7 linked regions of the Homo sapiens genome follow. The protein of the gene in region 4 interacts with the protein of the main gene of each other region in a biochemical or structural test. Each region holds a gene or a part of one and is shown on either strand. Other genes may lie near its edges. The genes, in order: GRIP2, RAPGEF6, CARD11, SH2D3C, FRMPD3, MPP7 and FRMPD1.

Evidence for each region.
Region 1: the proteins of SH2D3C (region 4) and GRIP2 interact in a test that uses a peptide from one of them, tested with the Homo sapiens proteins (one large-scale study listed by IntAct).
Region 2: the proteins of SH2D3C (region 4) and RAPGEF6 interact in a test that uses a peptide from one of them, tested with the Homo sapiens proteins (one large-scale study listed by IntAct).
Region 3: the proteins of SH2D3C (region 4) and CARD11 interact in a test that uses a peptide from one of them, tested with the Homo sapiens proteins (one large-scale study listed by IntAct).
Region 5: the proteins of SH2D3C (region 4) and FRMPD3 interact in a test that uses a peptide from one of them, tested with the Homo sapiens proteins (one large-scale study listed by IntAct).
Region 6: the proteins of SH2D3C (region 4) and MPP7 interact in a test that uses a peptide from one of them, tested with the Homo sapiens proteins (one large-scale study listed by IntAct).
Region 7: the proteins of SH2D3C (region 4) and FRMPD1 interact in a test that uses a peptide from one of them, tested with the Homo sapiens proteins (one large-scale study listed by IntAct).

Annotation. Positions count from the first base shown.
Region 1 is NC_000003.12:14,516,343-14,519,842, reverse strand, and holds part of GRIP2 (glutamate receptor-interacting protein 2), read left to right. Parts: intron 1-1,945; coding exon 1,946-2,071; intron 2,072-2,629; coding exon 2,630-2,779; intron 2,780-3,500.
Region 2 is NC_000005.10:131,625,230-131,628,729, forward strand, and holds part of RAPGEF6 (rap guanine nucleotide exchange factor 6), read right to left. Parts: intron 1-3,500. UniProt on the Homo sapiens protein: Guanine nucleotide exchange factor (GEF) for Rap1A, Rap2A and M-Ras GTPases. Does not interact with cAMP.
Region 3 is NC_000007.14:3,033,868-3,037,367, forward strand, and holds part of CARD11 (caspase recruitment domain-containing protein 11), read right to left. Parts: intron 1-3,500. UniProt on the Homo sapiens protein: Adapter protein that plays a key role in adaptive immune response by transducing the activation of NF-kappa-B downstream of T-cell receptor (TCR) and B-cell receptor (BCR) engagement.
Region 4 is NC_000009.12:127,744,167-127,747,666, forward strand, and holds part of SH2D3C (SH2 domain-containing protein 3C), read right to left. Parts: intron 3,106-3,500; coding exon 2,981-3,105; intron 934-2,980; coding exon 398-933; intron 1-397. UniProt on the Homo sapiens protein: Acts as an adapter protein that mediates cell signaling pathways involved in cellular functions such as cell adhesion and migration, tissue organization, and the regulation of the immune response.
Region 5 is NC_000023.11:107,561,152-107,564,651, reverse strand, and holds part of FRMPD3 (FERM and PDZ domain-containing protein 3), read right to left. Parts: intron 1,542-3,500; coding exon 1,452-1,541; intron 1-1,451.
Region 6 is NC_000010.11:28,118,065-28,121,564, forward strand, and holds part of MPP7 (MAGUK p55 subfamily member 7), read right to left. Parts: intron 2,605-3,500; coding exon 2,530-2,604; intron 2,327-2,529; coding exon 2,130-2,326; intron 1,652-2,129; coding exon 1,587-1,651; intron 998-1,586; coding exon of another isoform or gene 993-997; exon of another isoform or gene 795-992; intron 1-794. UniProt on the Homo sapiens protein: Acts as an important adapter that promotes epithelial cell polarity and tight junction formation via its interaction with DLG1. Involved in the assembly of protein complexes at sites of cell-cell contact.
Region 7 is NC_000009.12:37,649,764-37,653,753, reverse strand, and holds the start of FRMPD1 (FERM and PDZ domain-containing protein 1), read right to left. Parts: upstream 2,801-3,990; 5' UTR 2,660-2,800; intron 1-2,659. UniProt on the Homo sapiens protein: Stabilizes membrane-bound GPSM1, and thereby promotes its interaction with GNAI1.

The sequences.
Region 1 (3,500 bases), on a different chromosome or scaffold from region 4:
AGGGCTAGAATGAGGGAGGGAACAGTCCTGTGCTCTCTGCTACTCAGAGCTTAGATCCTGGGCTCTTCTCAGTGACTCTCAGCAGATCCAGAGGAGGCAGCTGGGAAGTTAGAGAGGGCCTGGAGTTTCTCCTTTGAAGAGTCAGGGTCTCCCAGCTATGAGCAGGGAGCTGGGTGCTGGGCATTTCCAAGAGCAGAGGAAGTGGGTGGTCTGGGGGTCCAGAGGGCACAGTTGGGGCCAGGGGCAGGGTGGGGGGTGGCCACAGAGGGGCAGCTTTCAGCTCAGGGCAGGAAAGCACGTCCAGCAGCCCAAACCTTGGGCCTTGAGTGAAAGTCCCATCTTTGCTCCCAGCAGCTGGACAAGTGCTTTTCCCTCTCTGAGTCCCAGTCATCTCATCTGTAAAAAGGAGGGAGGACTTCTAATGCACAGACATGGGGGAGGCTGACGGAGATAAAGGACAAGGCACAGCCCAGGCCTATAAATCCTAGCCCTAAGGGCAGAGCTGGAGGGTGAGGAAGGAGTCTGTCCACCCCACCCTTTGCAAACCCCATCTTCTGGAAGAGAACGGAATCCCCCACATCTGATTGGGAGGACAGTTCTTGGGGAGAGTCCATCTCTATGGTCTCTGCCAGCTTCTGAAAAAGCCACACTGAATGAACCACAGTCCAGGGACTGGTCTGGGTGACATTAGGGCTTGAAACAGCGTCATTCATTCTCGTACCATTTATCGAGCATCTGCCACGTGCCAGGTTCGGTGCCGCGGCCTGCACGCCTCATTACTTCCTCATGACACCTCTCTGAGCTTAGTCTTACTGTCCTCCCACTTTACAGGGAAAGCTGAGGTAGCGTTGCAAGGCTACACATCTGCGTACAACCCCTTGGCTCTCATTAACTGAGCTTCTACTAAGTGCCAGGCACTGCTCTAAGCATGTTATATTATTAACTCATTCTAACCCTCCCCATTACCCGAGGAGGTGGCCACTCTCTTGGTCCCATTTTACAGATAATAGCACTGAGGCACAGATAGGCGAAGTGACTCCTCCAGGTCCCGCAGTTGGTCAGGGACAGAGCTGGGATTTGACCCAGGCAACTGGCTCCAGAGTGGGCCAAGCCCTGGGGAGGGGGGCTGTGGAGATGTGGCTCAAGGAGACAGAATCAACGGGCTGAGACAGTTGAGTCCTCACCTGTCCATCCGCGCAAGAGGAGAGCTGGCCTGGGGCGGTCTGGGAAGAGGTGTTGTATGGTGGCCAGTTTGGAGGATCAGATGGAGGAAGCAGGGTCTCCTAGGGGGTCGGGGCAGTGGGGGTTCCCTGGGAACTTGGAACAGGAGTGCAAAGAATTCACTGTGGATAAGGCTGGGAAGGGTTGCAGCCTGGGAAGGGGGAGCAGCCTCAGCCCGTGGTGCACTTCAGCCTTGGCCAACCCAGCAGGAAGCCCTGGAGCAAAGGCTGTCCTGGAGAGTCGTGGGGCAGAAATAGCCAGGCCCTAGTGCCCCGGTGCTCAGCCACTGGCCGAGGCTGCCTGGGCTGCAGAGCCACTGCATATCCCCAAAGTGCTGCAGCTGGACACCGTCTGCCAGCTGCACTCCTCACCAATTCTTTCTTGGAGAAACTTCATGGCAGCACTCATAGCCATAGACCTCTCCGGCTCCAGGGCAGGATGCCTGTGTTCAAATCCCTGCTCCACAACCTCCCAGCAGTGGGCCTCGGCCTGGCTTCCTTTCTCTCTCCTGTCCCTGCCTCTCAGGCTGCCATGTGGCAGCAGCTGCACTCTGAACACAGTGCCCGGCACATTGTAGGCGTCCGGGACATGTGAGCAGAATACTAAATGCCTTGCCTGGCTCAGGGGAAGCACGAGGATCTTCTGGTTCTTGCTTTCCTGGCTTCATAGTGCCCTCAGCCACTAACGCCTGCACCTCTCTTTCCTCTTTCTCCGCTGGCTACAGTGAAAGTGCAGAGGAGTGAGCAGCTGCACCGCTGGGACCCCTGCGTGCCCTCCTGCCACAGCCCCCGGCCCGGCCACTGCAGGATGCCCACCTGGGCCACACCTGCTGGCCAGGACCAAAGCCGATGTAATGTGCCTGCCCTGCTGTAGCTCAGCCAGTCTTGTAGCCTTTCCTAGGGAGGGGGCGATGCCTGTTGTCTAAGGGAAGGAAACTCAGACTCAGAGATTAGTGAGCTGGGTGTGGTGGTGCACGCCTGTGGTCCCAGCCACTCGGGAGGCTGAGGCGGGAGGATCGCTTCAGCCTGGGAGGTTGAGGCTGCAGTGAGTCAAGATCACACCGCCGCACTTCAGCCTGGGTGACAGAGCGAGACCTCAACTAAAAAAAAAAAAAAAAAAAAAAAAAAGAGAGAGAGATTAGGTGGCCTGCCTCATTGTCATCTAGCATGCCAGTGGCAAGATTGGCCCCGTCCCTAATAGCTGAGTTTCACAGGGTCTATGGAAACCCTGCAGTCTTTGAGACCCAGAGAGGAAAGGGACTTGCCTGAGGTCACACAATGAGTAACTGATGTGAAGGGGGAAGGCATCCCCATCTCTCCCTGTGGTTGGGTGGCTTCCCAGCACCCACTGTGTGGTGGGGTGGAGAGCCTCGGCTGGGGTTCACGGGGCTGTGCTCTCATCTCCCCAGCCTTGTCTTCAACTCCCTTTTCCTCGCCGACCTTGAACCACGCCTTTTCCTGCAACAACCCCAGCACCCTTCCCCGTGGATCCCAGCCCATGAGTCCTCGAACTACAATGGGGCGGAGGAGGCAGCGAAGAAGGGAACACAAGAGCTCGTGTAAGCTGTGGTCTCTTCCCTCCTCCTTGGGCTGCTTGTATGTCTGAGAGTGAGGCTTGCCAAAGGGTGTATGTCAGGGCGAGGGGAGGTATTTTGGGCAGAGCTCCAGGTGTATGCGTGGGAATGTTAAATAACATGAGTGGAACACCAGGCTGTCATGGATGGTTGGGCAGGTTGTGCACTGCTCAAGAGGACCACTGAGAGGTGCCAGTTACTTTGTACACTTTTATTCTTGTATTTTTATTATGAAAAATTCCTAGGATTTGGTGATAACGTCCTTGAGGAAAGGAAGTCTTTTCAGATGTGCATGAAGTTTTCACATTTTTTGCCATTCAGTCCTGATTCATTCATGGATAAAGCCTCAGTGCTGCGTTACTATATCCTTACCACCTCTCTGCCATTTGTTAATTTCCCCTAAGACAAAGACATGGCCTGAGACTCTAGCTGTCCAGAATGTAATAATTTCCAGTCTTACTTCTCTGCTTATTTATTGTTCAAAATTGCCCTTTTGAAATAAAGATATTTACATGTTAAGAAAAGTAAATCAATAGAAGACAAAAGTAGTGAATGATAAGGCAGGAGCCCTGTGGAAGTGGCAAAACACAATAATGCCTAAAATTTTGAAACCCTTCTTGGGAACAGTCTTTCCTTTGTTGATGCAGAAAGGGTTCTCAGCCTCCTGCCACATGAGCTGCAGAGGCCTCCAGGAAGGATAGAAGAT
Region 2 (3,500 bases), on a different chromosome or scaffold from region 4:
CCAGCCTGGGAGACAAGAGAGAAACTCCGTCTCAAAAAACAAACAAACAAACAAAACAAATTAATCATCTGCCAATGTATATTTAGGGCATATGGACTTTATGTTTTATAGTTCATTTCAAAGTTTTTCAAAAAAGTCTGGGGGAGGAGGAGAAATTATCTTTCCAACCAGTGACCAGGTTGGGCCAATTCTACCTCCTTAATACCTCACTATCCCACTTAACTGCTGCCACCACTGGGTCCAGGACCTTATCTCACACCTGAACTACTGTATTTGTTTCTAACAACAAAACATACTTCTTGGTGGCTGGGCACGGTGGCTCACACCTGTAATCCCAGCATTTTGGGAGGCCGAGGTGGGTGGATCACGAGGTCGGGAGATCGAGACCATCCTGGCTAACATGGTGAAACCCCGTCTCTACTAAAAATACAAAAAAATTAGCCAGGCATGGTGGCGAGCGGCAGTAGTCCCAGCTACTCGGGAGGCTGAGACAAGAGAATTGTGTGAACCCGGGAGGTGGAGCTTGCAGTCAGCCGAGATAGCGCCACTGCGCTCCAGCCTGGGTGACAGAGACTCCGTCTCAAAAAAAAAAAAAAAACCATACTTCTTGGTTTCCATATTATCTTAGTATAATCACTAGTAGTCTTACCTTTCACATGGAAAATATCCCAGTTTGGATAAAATACATGTCCAGTCTACCTGTATACCTATAAGCCTCCCTGTCTCTAGTCTGCTCCTCCCCACTCAATTACATCTCCAAAATGCTCACATAGTAGTCTTTATAAAACTGATCTTATTTCCAGGCTTTAAACCCTGCAACGGTTCTTTCTCCTTTATTTATAAGATGGAGTCCAAATTTCTGAAATTATCCAAACCCTGCTAGTACGTCCAGCTTCATCATTAAACATCTCACATCATGTACCATCATCCCCAAACATCCTAGACATTAGCCCCAGTGTTCTGCAACCTTTTTTTCATTTTCATCCCCTCCCAAAGAACCTTTCAGACAATTTTTCGTAAGCACTGCCCCATCTCTAATTAAATACTAAAGAATAAGACACTGTCAGTTTAGGGCTGAGTTTTAGAGGGCCACAAACCATACCAATAGCTGTGATTTTTTTTCCCACTCCCATAAAAGGCAATTTTTGCATCTTTGGGAGCGATATCACTTCCAACGGGAATGCCTGCTCTAGACTTACAGATTGGCTTCTTATTCTACAAGTATACATGGCTTGCCATCATCAGTACTTTTGCTCCTGCCTCTCTGCTTGGAATGACCTCTCTTGATCATCCAGAAATCAATTCATGACATTTAACACTGGGAATTCAATGCTCCCCCATGAAGCTTGTTCCCTTCCCCATCTTGCAATCCCAAAGCCCTACTCATACCTTTGTCACTAATAACTAAAACATTTATTACATTTATGTTTTCTTATGTCTCCCAAGTCATTGATGAATAGGGACCATGTCTAACTCCTCTCTACAACCTTGGTTTTTAATATATCAGATATATTATTTCTTAAATGAATGTACAAATTAATGTTATCATCTGGGTGAGGTAACCATATCTCAGTTTAAGCGGGACAGTCCCTCTTTAACCTGTTACTCTGAAATAAATATTAACAGCTTCTCTTTTAATTCACAAAAATGATTTGAACAACATATTGTTAATCTATACCTAGGAAATATAGGAAATAAAATTCTGAGCAAGAGTAGAACATAATCAGATCTGAGAGGAAGATCACTCTAGCAGCAAGACTCAATGACTCAAGCAATAATTTGGGGGTAGAAACAATAAAACAGACTGAATTAGAGTAGTAAAACTTGTAAGAAAAGGGCAAATAAAAAGATTCAGGGGACAAAGTTTAGTGGCAAGTTGCATCTATGAGGAATGAAGAGAAATAATACAAATTCCTAGAGACAGCAACTCGGCCAGCTGCCAACAGATTATGAAGGAAGAGGAATAATGATGGCTCAATTTAGGACAAGTGGTTGAAGAACCTGGAGGACAAGATGGTTGATATATGAAGCTGAAGCACATAAAATTTAGGGGATAAGTTGGAAAACATAATCCTAGGAGGCATTAGCCTATAACAACTAACTGAAACCAAGCTGCTGAGTAAGACTGTCCAAGAAACAAAAAGTTAGCAGTTCCAATGAATACGAAGTGCTACCTTTTTAACATATGATGACTTTACAAAATGTATTTCCAAATTTTGGCTTGTAAAATATTTATTCATCATTTAATATGTGCAAATCATGGCATTAAGCACTGAGAGGGAAATAAACATTAAGGGAAATATAAGGAGTTCATTCTGAAGTAAAAAAAGGAACGTTATAAAGAATGGTATTAAATGTGGATTGAGCTGAGAAACAGCCAAGTTCAAGGTCTAATTATGACTGTGGCTTCTTTAAGGAATTCTGGCATAATGACGCAAAGAAGTACAGGCATACTCTGTTTTATTGTGCTTGGCTGGTATTGTGGGGTTGTTTTCTTTTTTTTTAAATACAAATTGAAGGTTCATGACAACCCTGCATCAAGCAAGTCCAACAGCACCATTTTTTTCAACAGCACATGCTCACTTCATGTCTCCGTGTCACATTTTGGTAATTCTCACAACATTTCAAACTTTTTCATTATATTTGCTATGGTGGCCTGTGATCAGCAATCTTTCATGTTACTACTGTAATTGTTTTGGGGCACCACAAACTGTGCCCATGTAAGATGGCAAACGTAACTGATGTATGTGTTCCAACTGTTCCACTGGCTGTTCCACCTTCTCTATCTCCCTCTCTTGGGGCCTCCCTATTCCCTGAGACATAACAATACGGAAATTAGGCCAATTAATAACCCTACAATGGCCCCTAAGTGTTCAAGTGAAAAGAGTCACCTATCTCTCACTTTAAATCAAAAGCTAGAAATGATTAAACTTAGGAAGGCTAACAACGGCCCAAAGCCAGGCCTCTTGCACCACACAGTTAGCCATGTTGTGAATGCAAAGAAAAGGCACATGGAGAAAATTAAAAGTGCTACTTTAGTGAACAAAAAAATGATTTAAAAAAAAAAAGTGAAAAAGTCTTATTGCTGATATGGAGAAAGTTTGAGTGGTCTAGATAAACCATCAAACCAGCCACAACAGTCCCTTAAGCCAAAACCTAATCCACAGCAAGGCCCTAACTTTTCAATTCTAAAAAGGTTGAGAGATGAGATGGCTGCAGAAGAAAAGTTTGAAGCTGGTGGAAGTTGGTTCATGAAGTTTACGAAAAAAAGCCACCTCCACTAACATAAAAAGTAAGTTATCCTGAAGATCTAGCTAAGATAATTAATGAAGGTGGCTACACTAAAAATCAGATTTTTAATGTAGACAAAACAGCCTTATATCAGAAGAAGATGCCACCTAAGACTTCCATAACTAGAGAGGAGAAATCAATGCCTGGCTTCAAAGCTTCAAAGGACAGGCTGACTCCTGTTAGAGGATAATGCAGCTGGTGACTTTAAG
Region 3 (3,500 bases), on a different chromosome or scaffold from region 4:
GACATAAGGTTGATCTTTAAAATATATTTTAAAATTACAGCTGGGCACGGTGGCTCATGCCTGTCATCCTAGCACTTTGGGAGGCTGAGGCGGGCGGATCCCCTGAGGTCAGGGGTTCGAGACCAGCCTGGCCAACATGGTGAAACCCTATCTCTACTAAAAATACAAAATTAGCTGGGCATGGTGGCACACACCTGTTATTCCAGCTACTCAGCAGGCTGAGGCAGGAGAATTGCCTGAACCCGCGAGGTGGAGGTTGCAGCGAGTTGAGATCACACTACTGCACTCCAGCCTGGGCAACAAGAGTGAGACTCTGTGTCAAAGAAAATAGAACTGTATATATATAATTACTAAATTATATATATAAATTATATAAATAGATATTATACAAATATAATTATACATATTATATACAATTATATATAAATATATAATTATACATATAATTACATATATAATTTTTTAAAAATAATATGTATATATGTACAAATTACTTAAGAAAGATACAGGGCTGGGCACGGTGGCTCACATCTGTAATCCCAGAACTTTGGGAGGCTGAGGCTGGAGGATAGTTTGAGTCTAGGAGTTCGAGACCAGCCTGGGCAACATAGCAAGACCCTCATCTCTACAAAAAATAAAAAAATTAGCCGGTCATGGTGTCACATGCCTGTAGTCGCAGCTACTTGGGAGGCTGAGGTGACAGGATTGCTTGAACCCAGGAGGCTGAGGCTGCAGTGAGCTATGATGGCACCATTGCACTCCAGCCTGGGCAACAGAGCAAGACAAAATTACAGCAAACTTCCACATAAAATGAGTGAGGAGACACGGTGACCCGTCCCCGGCGCACAGACGGCCTTCTGCTTGTACCGGAGCTGGGTCCTTTCCCCACTAGGTCATGCTCTTCGCCAGTCTAAGACCTCCCCGGGCTCAGAACACTCGGAACAGGGCCCGGTAAAAGGCCGTCCTTTAAGAAGGAGGAGAAACATTTTTCAAAGATCGAGAACTCTCCTACGAAGAGCCAAGAGCCTCTGCGTGCCTCAGGGACTCAAACGGGGATCACGGTGCCTGTTCACTGGCAAACAGGGACCCCCATGTCAGCTCGCAGAGGCTCTCCGCAGGGTATCAAGCTGCTTCTTGAAACGCGTCTGAGAATTGAAGTCAGGAGTCTTGGAAGGCGGTGTGAGGTATCGTTATTATTCTGCTGAACGTTTCCCCCGGAACCAACGATACCTGAATCCCTTTAAAAATAGGCCATTTCTTCTTAGAAGATTTCCACGAATCACATAATCCTTACGCAGAGGCAGGCAACGAAGCACTAATGTCAATAACGTTACAGTTTTACTTCACAGCAGCATTTATCCACTGACATAGCAATTTACTAAACCGCAGAAAACGCCGGCACAGGGCCTCTGCTTGCCCTTGGATTTTTTTTTTTTTTTTTTTTTTTTTTTGAGATGGAGTCTCACTCTGTCACCCAGGCTGGAGTGCAGCGGCGCGATCTCGGCTCACTGCAGCCTCCGCCTCCCGGGTTCACGCCACTCTCCTGCCTCAGCCTCCCGAGTAGCTGGGACTACAGGTGCCCACCACCACGCCTGGCTAATTTTTTTGTATTTTTAGTAGAGAGAGGGTTTCACCGTGTTAGCCAGGATGGTCTCGATCTCCTGACCTCTTGATCCGCCTGCCTCGGCCTCCCAAAGTGGTGGGATTACAGGCGTGAGCCACCGCGCCCAGCCCTCCTTGGATTTTTTAAATTTCAGAGACAAGGTCTCCTTCTGTCGCCCAGGCTGGAGTGCAGTGGTGCAATCACAGCTCACTGCAGCCTCTACCTCCTGAGCTCAAGTGATCCTCCCACCTCAGCCTCCTGAGGAGCTAGGCCCACAGGCATGACCACTACACCAGCTAACTTTTACATTTTTTGTAGAGATGGGGTCTTACTATGTTGCCCAGGCTGGTCTCAAACAACTAGGCTCAAGCCATCCTCCTGCCTCAGCCTCCCAAAGTGCTGGGATGATAGACATGAGCCACTGTGCCCAGGCTGCTTCCAGATTTTTTTTTTTAAAGGGCCATCACCACCAAGACACGTATAAGAATGTTCACAGTGGTTTCATCATAACAGCCCCAAACTGCAAGCAACAGAAACATTTATCAACGGTCAGGTGGATAAGTAAATTGTGGTAATTTTTTTTTTTTTTTTTTTGAGACAGGTCTCACTCTGTCACCCAGGCTGGAGTGCAGTGGTGCGATCTTGGCTCACTGCAACCTCTGCTTTCTTGGGCTCAAGCAATTCTCCAGCCTCAGCCTCCCGAGTAGCTGGGATTATAGGCGCAAGCCACCAATGCTTGGCTAATTTTTGAATTTTTGTAGAGACGGTTACATCCTGTTGCCCAGGCTGGTCTTGAACTCCTGAGCTCAAAGCAATCTGCCTGCCTTGGCCTCCCAAAGTGCTGGGATTACAGGCATGAGACACAGCGCCTGCCCCTATTGCGGTAAATTTATGCCATGAAATACTGTGTAGCAATGAAAAAGAAACATTGAATGTGACTCCGTCCACGTCAAGTTCAAGGACAGGGATGGTGATAGAGGTTGGAAGGGTCCTCCCTTAGGGGACAGGGGAGGGGTAACGACTGGGAGGGGATATGGCACTTCCCCAGAACCTAGAAAGGACCCAAATCTTGATCTGGGTGATTGGCTCCAGAAGGGCATGTGAAGGCCCGTCAAGCTGTTTGTACGCTTAAGACTGTACTGTGTGTGTGTTATACCTTAATTTTTAAAAATTATTATTATTATTATTACTGATGGGCAATCAGTTTTACCTTTCTTTTTTATTTTATTTTTAGAGATGGGGTCTTGTTCTACTGCCCAGGCTGGAGTACAGTAGTGCAATCCTAGCTCACTGCAGCCTCAAACTCCTGGGCTCAAGTGATCCTCCCATCTCAGCCTCTGGAGGAGCTGGGACTACTACAGGTGTGTGTCACCATGCCTGGCTAATTTTTTAAAGTTTTTTTGTAGAGGTGGGATCTCACTATGTTGCCCAGGCTGGTCTCGAACTCCTAGGCTGAAGTGATCCTTCCACCTGGGCTTCCCAAAGTGTTGGGATCACAGGTGAGAGGTGCCACGCCTGGCCTATCAAACTTTTTGATGTTTGCCAGTCTGACAGGTGGAAAACGCTATGTCCCTGTTGTATTACTTCACATGGATTTAATTACAAACGAAGCATGCTGACTGACCTGCTCATATTCCGTGTGTTTGTACCCTTTCACCATTTTTTCCATTGGTTGAATTCTCTAATTTTGGGGTCTGGACACTCCCACTGAGGGTCCAGTCCTGTGCCATCCACTGTGCCGAAGGTGGCCATACTCACTCCCAACTGCAGCCGCCTCCACCCCGCAAGGACAGAGTTGCTAGCTTCGACAGAGACCCTCTGGCTCACAAGGCCTAAAATATTTACTATTTGGAGCTTTCGAGAAAAAGTGTGCCAGTTCCCATGTCTCATTGGTTTA
Region 4 (3,500 bases):
TTCAAGTGATTCTCCTGCCTCAGCCTTCCAAGTAGCTGGGATTACAGGCGCCCACCACGACGCCTAGCTAATTTTTGTATTTTTAGTAGAGACGGGGTTTCGCCATGTTGCCCAGGCTGGTCTTGAACTCCTGACCTCAGGTGATCCGCCCGCCTCGGCCTCCCAAAGTGCTGGGATTCAGGTGTGAGCTACCACCCCCGGCCTTTTTAAAAGGAGAAACTGGAGGCCCAGTGAGGCTAAATGACCAGCCCAGAGTCACAGAGCAGGCAAAGGACAGCCATGGAGCTAGAATCCAGGCCCACCTGCTGTACTTGGGGAATCTGGGAGCCAGCTTCTCACTGCCCTGCCCCACAGAACAGAGATGCTCCCTCCACCCCAGTGCACAGCCAGCACCTACCAGGCAGTCCACCTTGGTGACATGCCGGGCCAGCGTCCGGGCATCCACTTCTGCCAGCAGCTCCTTGACCTTGCGCAGAAGGCCCACCTCCAGTGGCCGGTTATCCCTGGGGATCAGTAGTGACTGGAAGGTGGCCGGGTTGAAGGAAGAAGTGACTTCCACGATGGGGACTGTGAAGGTCTTGCCCCAGTCCCCTTCAGGGGCCCCATTTTCTGACAGTTCCTTTAGCCTCTCCCCATAGCTCCTGGCCTGCTGGCTGGAGGTCTCAGTCGCTGCCCACTCTCGGCTGCCACGCACGGGAGGCTGGAGCTGGCAGTAGTGGCCAGAGTCCGGGTCACTGTAGCTGCTGAGTGATGGTGACGGGGAGGCCTTGCCAAGGGTGTGGGAGGGGCTGGTGTGGGGGCCCTTGTCTGACTCCCCATGGGTCTTTGGGGCACTTCCGGGACACAGCTGGGGCTCACTGGAACGGCGGGCGACAGGGGAGGCAGGCAATGCTGTGGCAGAAGGGGCTGCAGGGGCGGCATGGACACGGGTTACTGCAGAAAGGTAGAGAGAGAGGCCCCGTTATAGCAGCTCCCCACCAAAGTGAGATTCCCGCACCCCTTCCCAAAGAACAGGCTCCCTCACTCCTTGTAGGGAGTACAGAGGTGATGTCCCCACCTCCCTGCATCACCAGAGACCAGGGCCGATTGACTCTGGCAAGCTGACCAGCCCAGGTGATGCTCTGAAATCACCAGGACCCAGGAGTTTGCATGGCCCCACCCTGAGGCTGCTGCAGCCTTGGGGACCCACTGCTTGGAGGAGCTTCAGTGATCCGGGGAAGCTGAGTACCTGCTGGAGTTTCTTGTGCCACATGTGATTGTTTCTCGACGAATTAGCAATAATGATTTCCTTTTTTTTTTTTTTTTTTTTTTTTTTGAGTCACTGTCTCGCTCTGTGGCCCAGGCTGGAGTGCAGTGGTGCCATCTAGGCTCACTGCAACCTCCACCTCCTGGGTTCAAGCAATTCTTCAATTCTTGAGCCTCAGCCTCCCGAGTAGCTGGGATTACAGTCATGTGCCACAACGCCTGGCTAACTTTTTTTTGAGTCAGAGTCTCGCTCTGTTGCCTAGGCTGGAGTGCAATGGCATGATCTCAGCTCACTGCAACCCCCGCCTCCCAGGTTCAAGCAATTCTTGTGCCTCAGCCTCCTGAGTAGCTGGGATTACAGATGTGCCCCACCATGCCCGGCCTGAATTAGCAATAATGATTTGTTGCTAAACCTTGTGTGCTAGGAGCTGGCAACATGCTGGAGACATAATGACAGTAAAACCATCATCAAACCTCAAAGGCGATATTTACTAAGCTCTTAGTGCCTGCAAGACCCTTCTTTGTACCTCAGTCTATTTAATCCTTTCAATGTCCTATGAAGTAAGTACTTTTATAATCCTCATTCTACAGATGAGAAAAGTGAAGCTCAGAGAGGTGCACTAACCTGCCCAAGGTCACCCAGCCAGCAAGTGGTACAGCTGAGATTTAAGTCTTGACATCTGGGCTGCTTTACTATACCAGATTGCTTAGAAACTGTCCAATAAGTCATTCTGGCAAGGAATTTTAGGTTTTATACTCAGGGTATTGCTTTGAAATCAAGTTTGTAGTTATGACAAAGTTGGTGGCTCTGTGTTTAGGGAAGGATTTGTGACAACCGATACAGACAGCAACACTTCAATGGAATGCCACCCTAGGCGAAAGTTCCTCCTGAGTCAGCCCCCTCTCGTGACACTTGGCCTGCCACGTGGACAATACGGCCTGTTGAAAACATTCTTTTTATTTTTTTTCCAGAAATGATCTATTGGAATGTTTCTAACAGAGAAACTTTCTTCGTATTTATAAGAAAGCACAGTGTTCCGTACTTTCCACTTAATTTTGCTGCAAACCTAAAACTGCTCTAAAAAATAAAGTCTATTAAGAAAAATAGAGGCCAGGTGCAGTGGCTCATGCCTGTAATCCCAGCACTTTGGGAGGCTGAGGCGGGTGGATCACCTGAGGTCAGGAGTTCGAGACCACCCTGGCCAACATGGTGAAACCCCATCTCTACTAAAAATACAAAAATTAGCTAGGCATGGTGGCACACGCCTGTAATCCCAGCACTGTGGGAGGCCAAGGCAGGTGGATCACCTGAGGTCAGGAGTTCGAGACCACTCTGGCCAACATGACGAAACACCGTCTCTACTAAAAATACAAAAATTAGCCAGGCGTGGTGGCAGGGGTCTGTAATCCCAGCTACTTGGGAGGCTGAAGCAAGAGAATCGCTTGAACCCAGGAGGCGGAGGTTGCAGTGAGCCAAGATCCCACCACTGCACTCCAGCCCACAAGAGCAAAACTGTCACAAAAACAAATAAATAGTTGCTAAATAAACAAACCATGGATACATCTTATATGTTGATATCAACAGTTCTGTTAGCAGGATTCCAGTGTCAGTTCTTTCTCTTGGTAAAGGTCGCGCCTCATAAAAGAGGCGGAAACACACATAACCACACATAGGTGACAGAAGTCTTCAACAACAGATTCCCTCCACCTGCTCCACCCCCTCTGCTGGCCATACCAGTGCTGTAGGCAGGGGAGCTAGGGCTCTCGGAGATGGGCGACATGGGTGAGTGCAGGTCTGGGATCTGGTCCATGCTGAGGGCACAGCTGCGGATGGAGTCCCGAGGGCGGGGCAGCGACGTACTGTGGAGCAGACACCATCATGGGCAGGGAGCCCGGAGGTCAGGGGCCTCAGCCTGCCTCTGGGACCCCCCACCTCTGCACCTTGAACTTCAGAGGCAGAGAAGGCTTGGAGATTATCAAATCCAACCTCCCGACTGACAGGTACCAAAAAAACTGAAGCCCAGATGAGGGAGGGGGCACAGCGAGTCAGGAGCAGAGCTAGGAACCCTGGTGGCTAGAACGCCTGGTTTCTTTTTTTCTTTTTTTGTCTTTTTTCTTTTCTTTTTTGTTTTTTTTTTCGGAGATGGAGTCTCACTCTGTCGCCCAGACTGCAGTGCAGTGGCGTGATTTCAGCTCACTGCAACTGCTGAACCTGCCTCCCGAGTTCAAGACATTCTCCTGCTTCAGCCTCCGAG
Region 5 (3,500 bases), on a different chromosome or scaffold from region 4:
CAGGTTGAGTAAAGTGCACAGGCAGAAGGGCTAGCTCAAGCAAAACCGTGAAGTAGGTGAGGTTTGTTTGGGGGCCTTTGGAGCACCCTCCCCTTCCAAGCCCCAGGGGCTTTCCATTTGTTGCTGCAGGCCATTTGAGGCCCCCACCCAGTGCTCTGCCTGAGAAGGCGGCATCCTGTGTCTGGTCTTTACCCTCCCCCCACCAACAGCCACTCAAACTTGCACTTCTCACCCAGGCCAAAAACTAAACTGGCACAGTAACTCTGCCTAAGGTGTTGAGGGTTGATTGGGTACTTCATGGCAGCCTCCCTCGTTAAGCAGAGATTTGCCTTTTAATGGGCACTCCAGCAGGTATGGCCAATAGAAATTTTAGCAGTGGTAGGTGGGTGGAAGAAAGATTTGACAGTGTATGAAGGAGGTGGGAGGGGACAGTGGGCTTTCAGTGTTCTGCAAATCCCAGTATGTAAATGGCTACCTCTCGGCCTGAAGGACTGGATTCCCTTAAGAGGTCTTGACAGATTCCTTGGAGCAATCAAGCTTGGGTCGTCTGGAGGCCCATTCCCTGGTATTAGCATCACCCTGAGGAACCTCTTGTGCCTGTCTATAGGCACTTTGATAAGTGGCTTTCCACCGATGTGCCGCACTAGCTGACAATGTGCTCCTGGGAGCAAGACAAGCACCTGGATCCAATTAGCAAGGTGATTTGAATTTCCTTTCACCAGGGTAAACTAGCCTGGGGCACAGTCTTAGGGTGGGACCAGCTGTGCCCTGCCCCAGAGCCTTGTTCCTGCAGCAAAGGTGCTGAGCAAGCAGGGGGAGAAGTAGAAGGACTCAGGAAACCTAGGGTAGGGGACTGTGGGAGTATGTGGAACAAAAATGAAATAGAGCAGGGGTTGCCTAACCATGGCCCATGGGCCAAATACCACCCACCACCTATTTTTTATGGCCCAGGAGCTAAGAATGGTTTTTAGATTTTTTAATGGTAGGGAAAAAAAATCAGAAGAGGCATGTTTTGTGACATGTGAAAAGTACATGAAATTCAAATTTTCGTATCCATAAATAATTATTGGTAAACAGCCACACCCATTTGTTTATGCATTGTCTGTGGCTGCTTTCATAATCTGACAGCAGGGCTGAGTAGTTGCCACAGTTGCCAGTATGGCCCGCCTGCAAAACCTAAAATATTTACTATCTGGCCCTTTATGGAAAAAGTATGCTGCGCCCCCAAATCGAGGAAGAGGAACAAAAAAAGGTCATGGAGGGATACTCAAAACAAATATCTCCTCCCACTTTATCATTTTGGCAGAGGCAGGGCCAGGGAGGTAAGAGGTAGAAGGAGGAGGAAGAGGAACGAAGGCCTTTAGAAATATTTGCCCCTCCTGCCCCCACACCCAAGGACAAGAGCCAACAAGGGGCTCCCTCCCCACATCCCCCAATCCTGCGCCACTGACCAGGCCTACAGTGTTGAACAAAACGCCCGTGAAGGTAGGAAGTTCATTCAGAATTCGTAGATACTGGAGCTTTGCCTGAATTGCAGAGCCCTGTGGAAAAACCCATCCAGAAATATGAGAAGCCTGAGGGGCACAGGAAAAGCAAACCCATGTTCTCAACGAGGAGTCTCAACATCCTAGGACAGGCACCAGTCAGCAAGTGACACTGTGGAGATGTGAAGATGCCCTTCTTAAAACAGCAGCAAGGTTCTAGTTTGGACAGCTCTTCCCTCTAGTATCTCATCTCCCTTTCTAAAATCTTGTCCTACCTCCTGATCTTCATTCCTAAAGTATCCAGCTTACTCATTTTGTTTTTGGTTTAATTCCAACTAACTGACGCCCCACCTAATCCATACCTCTCTCCTGAGATGTTTCAGACCCCTAGAGTCATGTACATGCTGGTCATTCCCCAGCTGGGGGTCCCACTCAATACCGTTCATACTAAGCATTCCTAAGTCCCAAGCCTGCACTTCAGGCATTCCTGGTCTATATCAGCATCCCCTGGGCAATCAAGCCAGAAACCTGTGAGTCACACTGGACTCCTCCTTAATCGCCTCATGTGAGAGCCAGCAGTTACCAGATCATCTGGATACTTACCCCCTAGCTCCTTTTCCAATCTATCCATCCCTCTTCTCTAGCCAGTCATTGCCTTGACATTCCCACCTGTGTCAGGGTGACAGCCAGGTTACCTTCAGGACTGACACTTGTTTCCCTCTTTCCCTCAAGTGCCTCCACACTGTTAGAGGGAGCATCCTAAAACATAAGTTTAATCACATCAGCTCCCTGCTTTAAACCCTTCAATGGCTCCCAGCTGCCTAGAGGATGAAGTACAACCTCTTTCCTTGGCACACAAGGCCCTCCATGAACTGGCTCCTGCCAACCTCTCTGGCCTCTTCTCTTGCCCCTATCTTCACCCCTTGCACACAGCTTGCATTTTCTGTACTTGCTTAGGCTGAATGATTTGCATTTCTGTCCTTGCACCATGGTTTCTCATATCTCTGGGCCTTTGTACAGATGGATCTCTCTGCCTGGGAAACACTTCCTCCCATGACCCATGCCCACGGATTAATCTAGACAAACTCTTATCTGTCTTTCAAGACCCAGCTCTGGCCTTTTCCACCTCCCTCAGGCTGGGCTTAGTGTTCTTCCTCTGTGCTTCCAGAGCACCTGTGCCTAATGCACTGTGTTGGGACTGACTAATGTGTTTCCCCATTAGACTGTGCCTGACTCAGGGGCCAAGACCAGGCCCTCTTCATCTTCATATTTCCAACCCAAGCACTGGGGTGCCTCGAAAAAAATGTTACCTGAGGAGATGGTGGTGAGCACTGATGCTCTCAGTTGAGAAGAAAACAATCTGATTAAATATTCACAGCAAGGTGGGAATGGCTTAACTCTCCGGGGAAATTTGCATCTTAAAAGAGAAGCTAGTTGGTAATGCAAGAAATCTGGAATGGGAGGAATGTATGGGGCGATTGCGTCCCATATGTACATCTGCATGCTGATTCTAGTGCGTCTCACCACTCTCCTGCTTCTAGGGCAGGAAGCACAGGCAGATTGAATCTTACAAAGCTAAGAAGCTGCTGCGGGGCTTGGGAAAGCAGACAGTGGGAGTCCCTCAGAGCACTAGAAAGTGGAGGCAGTAACCTGATCCCTCACCATTCCACCCAGTGACCCATTCTCCAGGTCAGGTCTTGTGCCCCCAACTCTCCCACTTTCCCCTGGGCTGGGGTTTTGTCTCCCAGAATTCCACACCCTAGGACTGATGAATTAGAGGTACAGAGGTACATTTCCTTTTTTTACATTTTTTTTAAATTATTTTTTTAAAAGTAAAGACGCTGTCTCACTATGTTGCCCAGACTGGTCTCAAACTCCTGGGCTCAAGTGATCTTCCTGCTTTGGCCTCCCAAAGCGCTGGGATTACAGGCATGAGCCACCACACCAGCCTAGTCATTTCCATGGAAAACATGTGCCTCCCTAGGGTCCAGTGCTTTCCACATGATACATGCTCAG
Region 6 (3,500 bases), on a different chromosome or scaffold from region 4:
CTAGAATAAATATTTATCAGATCCAAATATTGAAGTATTAACATAAAAAAGAAATCATGCAAATCAACATACAAAAGGACTCCGTTACAATTAATACTTCTACATACACACACAAACAAACACACATACCCCCACACACACCTCACCTTCCTATGCATCTATATAGAAACCAGTTTGAAAGAGCTATTAAAAAGCAAAATATCCCTTTTGTATAGTTCTTTTAAAGAAATACATATACACTTATCAAAAATTTTCAATCAATGAAAATTTATAATAATATCAAACTGTACATTTCTAAGTTGCCTAGGACTGAAAAAGAGTTGAGTATGGATCCAGATTCGAGTATAATTACATTTATTTCATCTTTAAGTGACACATTATCTTATCCCACATATGCCAAATATATTAGAAATGTGTAAGCCTCCTATTTAAAAATCCCTTTGAGAGCCAGTCAGGCAAGGAGCCTCAAAGCTCCTTTCTGTTAGTGAGTTGGCCAGTGAAAAGTCATCACGCTTAAGAACAGTGCAATATTCTCACGAAAGCTTTAAGTTTTCTGATGTCAGAAGACTTGTAGCATTCTGTGACAAGGGTTTTTTTCCTTGTGCCTAGACTTAATGTAGCAAGGACAAGCAGGCTTTTGAATGAGTGCTCCACTTTAAGCATTTGCCTGCTTGTGAGATTTATACTCGACTACAGTTTGGCTCCCTTCTAATGTGATTCCTGGGCTATATGCTTCTGCAAACTGACAGAAATCACAGGAGATGTGAAAAATGCAACAATACTAAAAACAGATGTTGGTGTAAAATTCCAGGGCCATTTATTTGGTCATTTCGCTGTTTAATGTACAGTTTCTATGCTAAAAACAAAGGGTTGGTTTTTTCCTCTTAAAATACCTAGAACCATGAAACATCTAGGCGAGGTGGAACAGGGAATTTATGGGATGCAGACTTGAAGAGCTGGGTGGTGGGAAATAAAGAAAAGCTGACAGAAGATTAGGCTGAAAGAGAAAAAAAAGTATTTAAATGCACACTAAGTTTTTCAGTAGTCATACGGTAGCCATCCTTTGTCTTTCTCTCATTTTCTTTTAATCTAGTCTGGTAATAACTCCAAAGGGATAGGCTAAAGGTCAGAAGTATTATGATCTGGGGATAAGAAAGGAATTAAGAACAATTGGTCTTGAGCACAATTGCTTTTGTACCCAAGAAAATGGTAGATTTTTTTTCTCCCTAATCTTTACCAAGAAATACCTAACCCAAACTTCCTGGCTTTGAAGAAGGAAGAGCTGTATTTTAGGTGACATTTAATAAAATAACTATATTTGGAAATCAAAGACAGTAGTAGTAGTAGTCACTTTCTTAAAGAGTGAGTCATGGATTTATTATTAACAACCTCAACCACCCCTTTCCTCAAAAGATTCATGTTAATATTCCAAATATGAATCTCATATTTGTTTGTTCCTGAGAACTGATGATCCCAAAGTTATTGCTAGGGTAATAGGACCCTTTGTTCTGCCATGAGCACCTGCTTTAATAGTCAAAAATAAACATCAGGGTTTGGTTTCTCTGCATTCTTATTAACAAACTTACATGATTTCCTGTTGGAAACTTTCAGGGGCTGAACCAATATTTCTGGTCGTCTCAAAGCCAATCTCCTGGGAGAAAGAAGGTCAACATACCTATCAATTTTCAGCACAGGTCCGAGGTGAATACAATATCAAAATATTTAGTCTTAAGAAAAAACTTAAAGGTTAGAGAAAAAAATGAATGTAATGCAATAGATTCAAATTAAGAAACAAATCGCCCACTTTCAAATTTTTGTAAATTATCTTCCCTCCCTCCAAAACCACTGGTCTTTTTTTTTTCCACCTTTCATATCAACATGGTTTCAAGATATTAATGTGCTATTTTCCATTTGCTTCATAACAAAAATCTAATATGACCCAGTACTGTCATATTATTTTTGGTCATTCATCATACTTAGTTAGACAAAACAGAAATCCAAACCCACAGGATAAAAAATTCTAAGGCAAGGTTTTATAGCATATTTTATCACATCAATGCCAGAATGATATTTTGCAGAGAACAAAAGGTCAGCTGGAGAAAAGCCATTATTATGTACCAGCAGCTCACCTTTCCTGGAAATGCTTTGAGGGGATCAAGCCTGCCCTGGGGTTGGCATCAGCTTCGTGTTTCGCTTGCCACCAAGTTGCATCATCTTGGCTCATAATCTGAAGAATATCTCCCTTTTTGAAAGAAAGCCCAGCTTCCTTACATGGAATTGCCTTATCCTCATTAGGATTATAGTCAAAGAGGGCTTTGATAAACATCTGGAAGAAAAGTTTCATTAAAGATGAATAAAGATAAAAAATAAATGTGAAATGGCCTATATTCTCCTAACTCCGACTCCAAACATAGTAATTTTAAAACTGGAATATTGAAAGAAATGTGTTGTGACAAAGTGGATATGTGTTGGATGGAAAAACATGACTTCCCTCCCACGCACGAAGAAATGTTTTTAAGCAATAATTACCTTGCCTTCTTTTGATGGTGTCTCCTCTTTGCTGCCGGGTATAATCTTAAATGTAATTGCTCCCTGAGACTGAGCCTGGTAACAGATAAAACAAGGAGTTATAAGAAAACCAGACCCAAGGAAGAATAAGGTAAAATAGGTAGAAAGTGAAATGCATCTGAAAATTTACAAGCTTGGGGCTTCTACTCTTAGATAGACTAAACGGAGGAAACTATTTTTGTAGAAATTCCTGTAATGTGAGAAAGAAAGCTCTGAAGTTTGTAGAATAAGTTAAAAAACATTAACTCCTAAATCCACTTTTACTTCCTGTGTACTTTTAAGCTGTCAAGTAAATACATTCCCATCCAAGTTTCTTCGAAATAGAAACACACAAAATATGCACAACACCTTAAATAAACACAGTATTCAATGACTAGAACAGATAATGTATAAAGGTCTGGGTGCAGTGGCTCGTGTCTGTAATTCCAGTGTTTTGGGAGGCAAGGTGGCAGGATCACCCAAGCCCAGGAGTTCAAGACCAGCAATATAGCAAAACCCCTGTCTCTACAAAAAAAATTTTAAAAATTAGCCAAGCGTGGTGATGAAGCTAAGGCCTCTTGAGCCCAGGAGTTCAAGGCTGCGGTGAGCTGTGATCGCACCACTGCACTCCAGCCTAGGTGACAGAGCAAGAAGCTTTTTTTTTTTTTTTTAAAGAATAATGTACAAGGTTCATACAGTTACATTTAAGTATCAGCATCCATGTTTTGGGGGACAAAACACCTATAATGTCAGTAGTGCAGTTACAAATACATGATTCAATTAGTGGCAATGCCCATCAGAAAAAAAAAATAAAGAACATTCATATCTATTGTATTCTGGTGAGCGAGTAAAATATCCAACGTAATAGATTAATTGAAAGATGAAAAGACTGAGTATCTATTCTAACTTCATTAAAATAAGTACCAGCACCCACAAGTTTTTGTTATCTCAGA
Region 7 (3,990 bases), about 90 Mb from region 4:
CTATTCTTTGACCACTGCAAATCTAAGACAGAAGGGAGCCAGTACCCCGCTCCCAGCTATATGGACAAAGCTGATATATTTAGAGCTGTGTCTGTCAAATCTGCCCCCCTCCCCCACCAATCTGGGTCCTTGAGTACATAGTGATAAGCTTGTGTGAGGCAGGGATTGAGCCTTCTGATTAGCCTTCTGTGACCTCCCACCACCTAACAGTATTTACAGGGCATTGCCTGTTGTTGATGTTAGTATCTGATCTGAACACCTTCCAAATAACAAAAAGCCCCTGCCCCTTGAATCAGGAGGCACCTCGAGGACACATCACATTGTCACAAGAACTCTCTGCTGCTGGTGAGGTTCTAAATCAATGCACATGCTTAAACCAAAAGCACTATTTACTCCAATGGTGCCTTCAAACACTTATTCAGCTTGCCCATGAACCCTCTGATAAAAAGAATTGACTTTTATCCAACACCTATTACATGCAAACATCCTATTAGACACTGTTATACATGATCTCATTTAATCTTGTGAGTTTGGAATTATTATTATTCCCGTTTTACGAATTAAAAAAGTGACGCTCGGAGGCCCAATACTCCACAGCCAGCGAGGATTCCAGCCCAGGTTCAGAGCCTCCAGAGCCTCTTCCCGCTGCCCTGTCTCTGAAGTGCTCTGCCTTCTCTGTGCTTCCACCAGGCTCACTGCTCTCATCTGTCTCATGCTCTCCCAGCTCTCACCAGTTCCTTGCTCGTACCAGCTCCTTGACCTACACATAGCCTTTCTATTCCTCACCACCTGTTGAAATCCTCTTCTTCCTCCACCTTCCATTGTAAAGCCTTCTCCAATATCTCCACTTGGAATTCACCCTCCTTAGTGTTCACAGGAATCCCAGGCGATAAAGCCCACAATGAAGATCCTGTGGCACAAGCCTCTCTATTCCCCAACAGAACCTAAGCTCCTTGAGGGTAGGGCCTGTTGGTAATTTTCATGTTTGTGTCCTCTCGAATGAGTAGTGAGAAAGTGCTTGATGAACCAATAGAGAATGAAGAGGGAAAAGACTGGTGGCATTTGAATGCGTCAGAGAGATAAAAGGCTCTGGACAAATTAGCTTCAAGGATGGGGTCTCATTCAGGAAAGACAAACTTAGGTACCACAACTCTGCTCTGGTCACCAAGCACACCCTCACCAGCTCTCTGATTTCATAATGCTAGAAACTTAAAACCAGGATGTCGAGGAAGGAAATAAAATCATAAAATCACTTCTGTGAGAATCCTTTCGTGGTAATGCGTTTCACCCACACACTGGGGAGCCACTAATTGCAGCACAAGGGGAACAAGATATTGGGCAAAAGAATAAATTTCACTTTCTAGCATATCACAGTTAACTACCTCGTGCTTGTTTTGCTGTGACTGTGCCAGAATGCACCAGTCCTGGAAAAGATGAACTTGGCTCCTTAACCGTACCCATACTCAACACCGACCAAAGGATGCCCGAAATTGTCTTGATTGGAAATCATCTCAACCATCATCTTAGACTAGAAACAAGTAGATGCTGGCCTCTAGGTCAGGACCCCTAGAACAGTGCATTATTTTTTTTTCCCAAACAACCATTCTGAGGTTTTTACAAAAATAACCGACTCACAAACAGAAACGCTTCCTGATCTATAAGCCACTTTGAAAACAAATCATTATGTCGTTGAATATTTCATGACGGTCCAAAGCACTGAAGAAGGCGAACTGAGCGTTCACCAATCCTCCCCATGTCTATTTTGGGACTTCCAAAGCAAACTGCAAATGCCTCCTTTATTTTCTAAACGTTCATTTGCAAGTGCTAGATGGATTCTTGGTGAAATATTGCCTCCACCCAAACTGACTAAATGCAGAGATCCGGAGGTTCCGCTTCTCCAGAGTTTACAGCTGAAAGAGACAGCGAACAACTAGTGAACACGACTTCCACCCTATTTTATAGGTGGCAAAAGCAGGGGGCACTTGCCCAAGGTCACACAGACAGTGGGTGTATGGCAGAGGAGCCACCAGAAGCCAGAGTCCTGACTCCTAACCCTAGGGGCATCCCCTGCTTCCCGAGGCTGACTCAACGCCCCCACTAAAGCTCAGTCAAAGCTGCTGCAAGTTAGCGACGCGACCCTGGAGACTGACTTCTGTGGCTCATTCCTCTCCACACGCAATGAGTTCTGGAGCTGAGACACTCAGGGATGCCCCTCTACTCAAAAAATGACAACACAGGCATTGGCACTGCAGCTGATCGTCCCTGGCGAACCCCTTCTGGTTCAGGTGTGGCCATCGAGGACGGACAGAGAGGGTTGGTCTGAGGTCACTCAGAAAGTTGGCGCTGGCCGCGGCCGCACCTGAACCCAGGTCTCTCCCCCTCCCGCGTTGCCGCTGTTTCCACTCACTACACCATGCAGATCTCGGAAACTTAAGCACACATCGCTACTGTGCAAACAGTTCACGATGGCAGGTCCTGAGCTAGCCCACGGACGCGCCCCCGAGCCGGGCTTGGGGACACGAGGACCGGAGGCGGGCGCGGGTCACCCGGGACTGGTGGTGCAGGCGGAGGGCGGCGCGGAGGAAGCCGAGGCGCAGGCCCGGGGTGTGGGGACAGGCCGTCTCCCCAAAACTTTGCGGTGCCAGGACCCCTCCCTTACCTGCAGAGGAGGTGCCGCCCGCGCGGACAAGGACCTAGCGGGCTGACGCTCTCGGAGAAGGGCGGCCCCGCCCAGCGGCGGGCACGGTCGCGGCCAAGGCTCGGGAAGCAGCGCTGCTCGGGCTCGGCTCGGGCTCCGCCTCCCGCGCCGAGGCTGCAGCCGGAGGGGTTGGCCGGGCCGGGCCGCGCCCGCGCCGTCTGGCGGCGGCAGGTGCTGAGGCTGCAGCTGCGCGGCCGCCAGCTGCCGGCGCCGCGACCCCCGCCCCGGGGGAGGAGCCCCGCGCGCCGCCTCCGCTGGCTCCGAGGTCCCGGCCCGCCGCAGTGGGCGGTCCCGCTCCCACCCGGGCCCTGCCTCCGCCGCCTGCCTCAGCTCACCGCCGGGGCACGCAGCGTCCGCTGAGTACCCAGGGGGGAGACTGAGGCTGGGAGAGGAAAGGGACTCCCCAAGGTCACCCGGACCAGCGGTGGTTGGGCCAGAACTGGAACCCAGAAGAGTTCCCAAAACGACCCCCTTCTCACGCCTCCTTTTCCCCAGGAAGAGCCCCAGCTACGGGGAGCCCTGGGGGACTCGCCCCCTGACCCCCACGCCCCGCAGGTGTTCGGCTGAAGGGAGAGGGAGAGCGTGGGCCCACGGTAGGCACTGTGGACCACCTCCCCTGTCTCTGTAAACTCCTTCCGCGCTGGGAAACTGTGTTCTCCTAGCTTTCCTCGGCCCTCTCCAGCCACTCCCTCGGTCTCCTTGAGGGTTCCTCAAACCAGAAGCTCTAAAATGCCGGAGCGCCCTGGGACTCTGCACTCAGCCCTTTTCTGACCCCCTGAGCCGTCTCACCCACTCCCCTGGTTCTGGTCCTACCGCCTCTCTGAGCATGATACCCAAATGCATGTGTCTGTGCACTATTTTCCGTGCTGAACTCTACTGAACACCTACGAGGTCCATATCCTGCATTAGACACTGGAGATACAATACACCTTTAATAAAGCAGTCCCTGTCCTCATGGAATGTACAGTCTAGGACTATTAAAATACAGTCCAGTTCCTGTAACAATAACCCAATCCCACGGGGCCAAGGGCACCACTCAGGCCTGCACTGACTGAGTGAAGGCCTCCTGGAGAGGGCATGCTCTAAATGGAAACCTGAAAGGCCAGTGGAATTGGCCAGTGAAAGGGAGGAGTGTGGAGAGAGCCTTTCAGGTTGAGACCACAGGAACAAAGACCCCAAGATGAGAGAGATCCCACAGAGGGAGTGGCAGGAGTTGAGACATAAAGCAGGGGAGTCAGCAGGGGCCAATTCCTGGTCAAGGAGTTTGCACCGTGTTCCCAGTGCACTGGCAG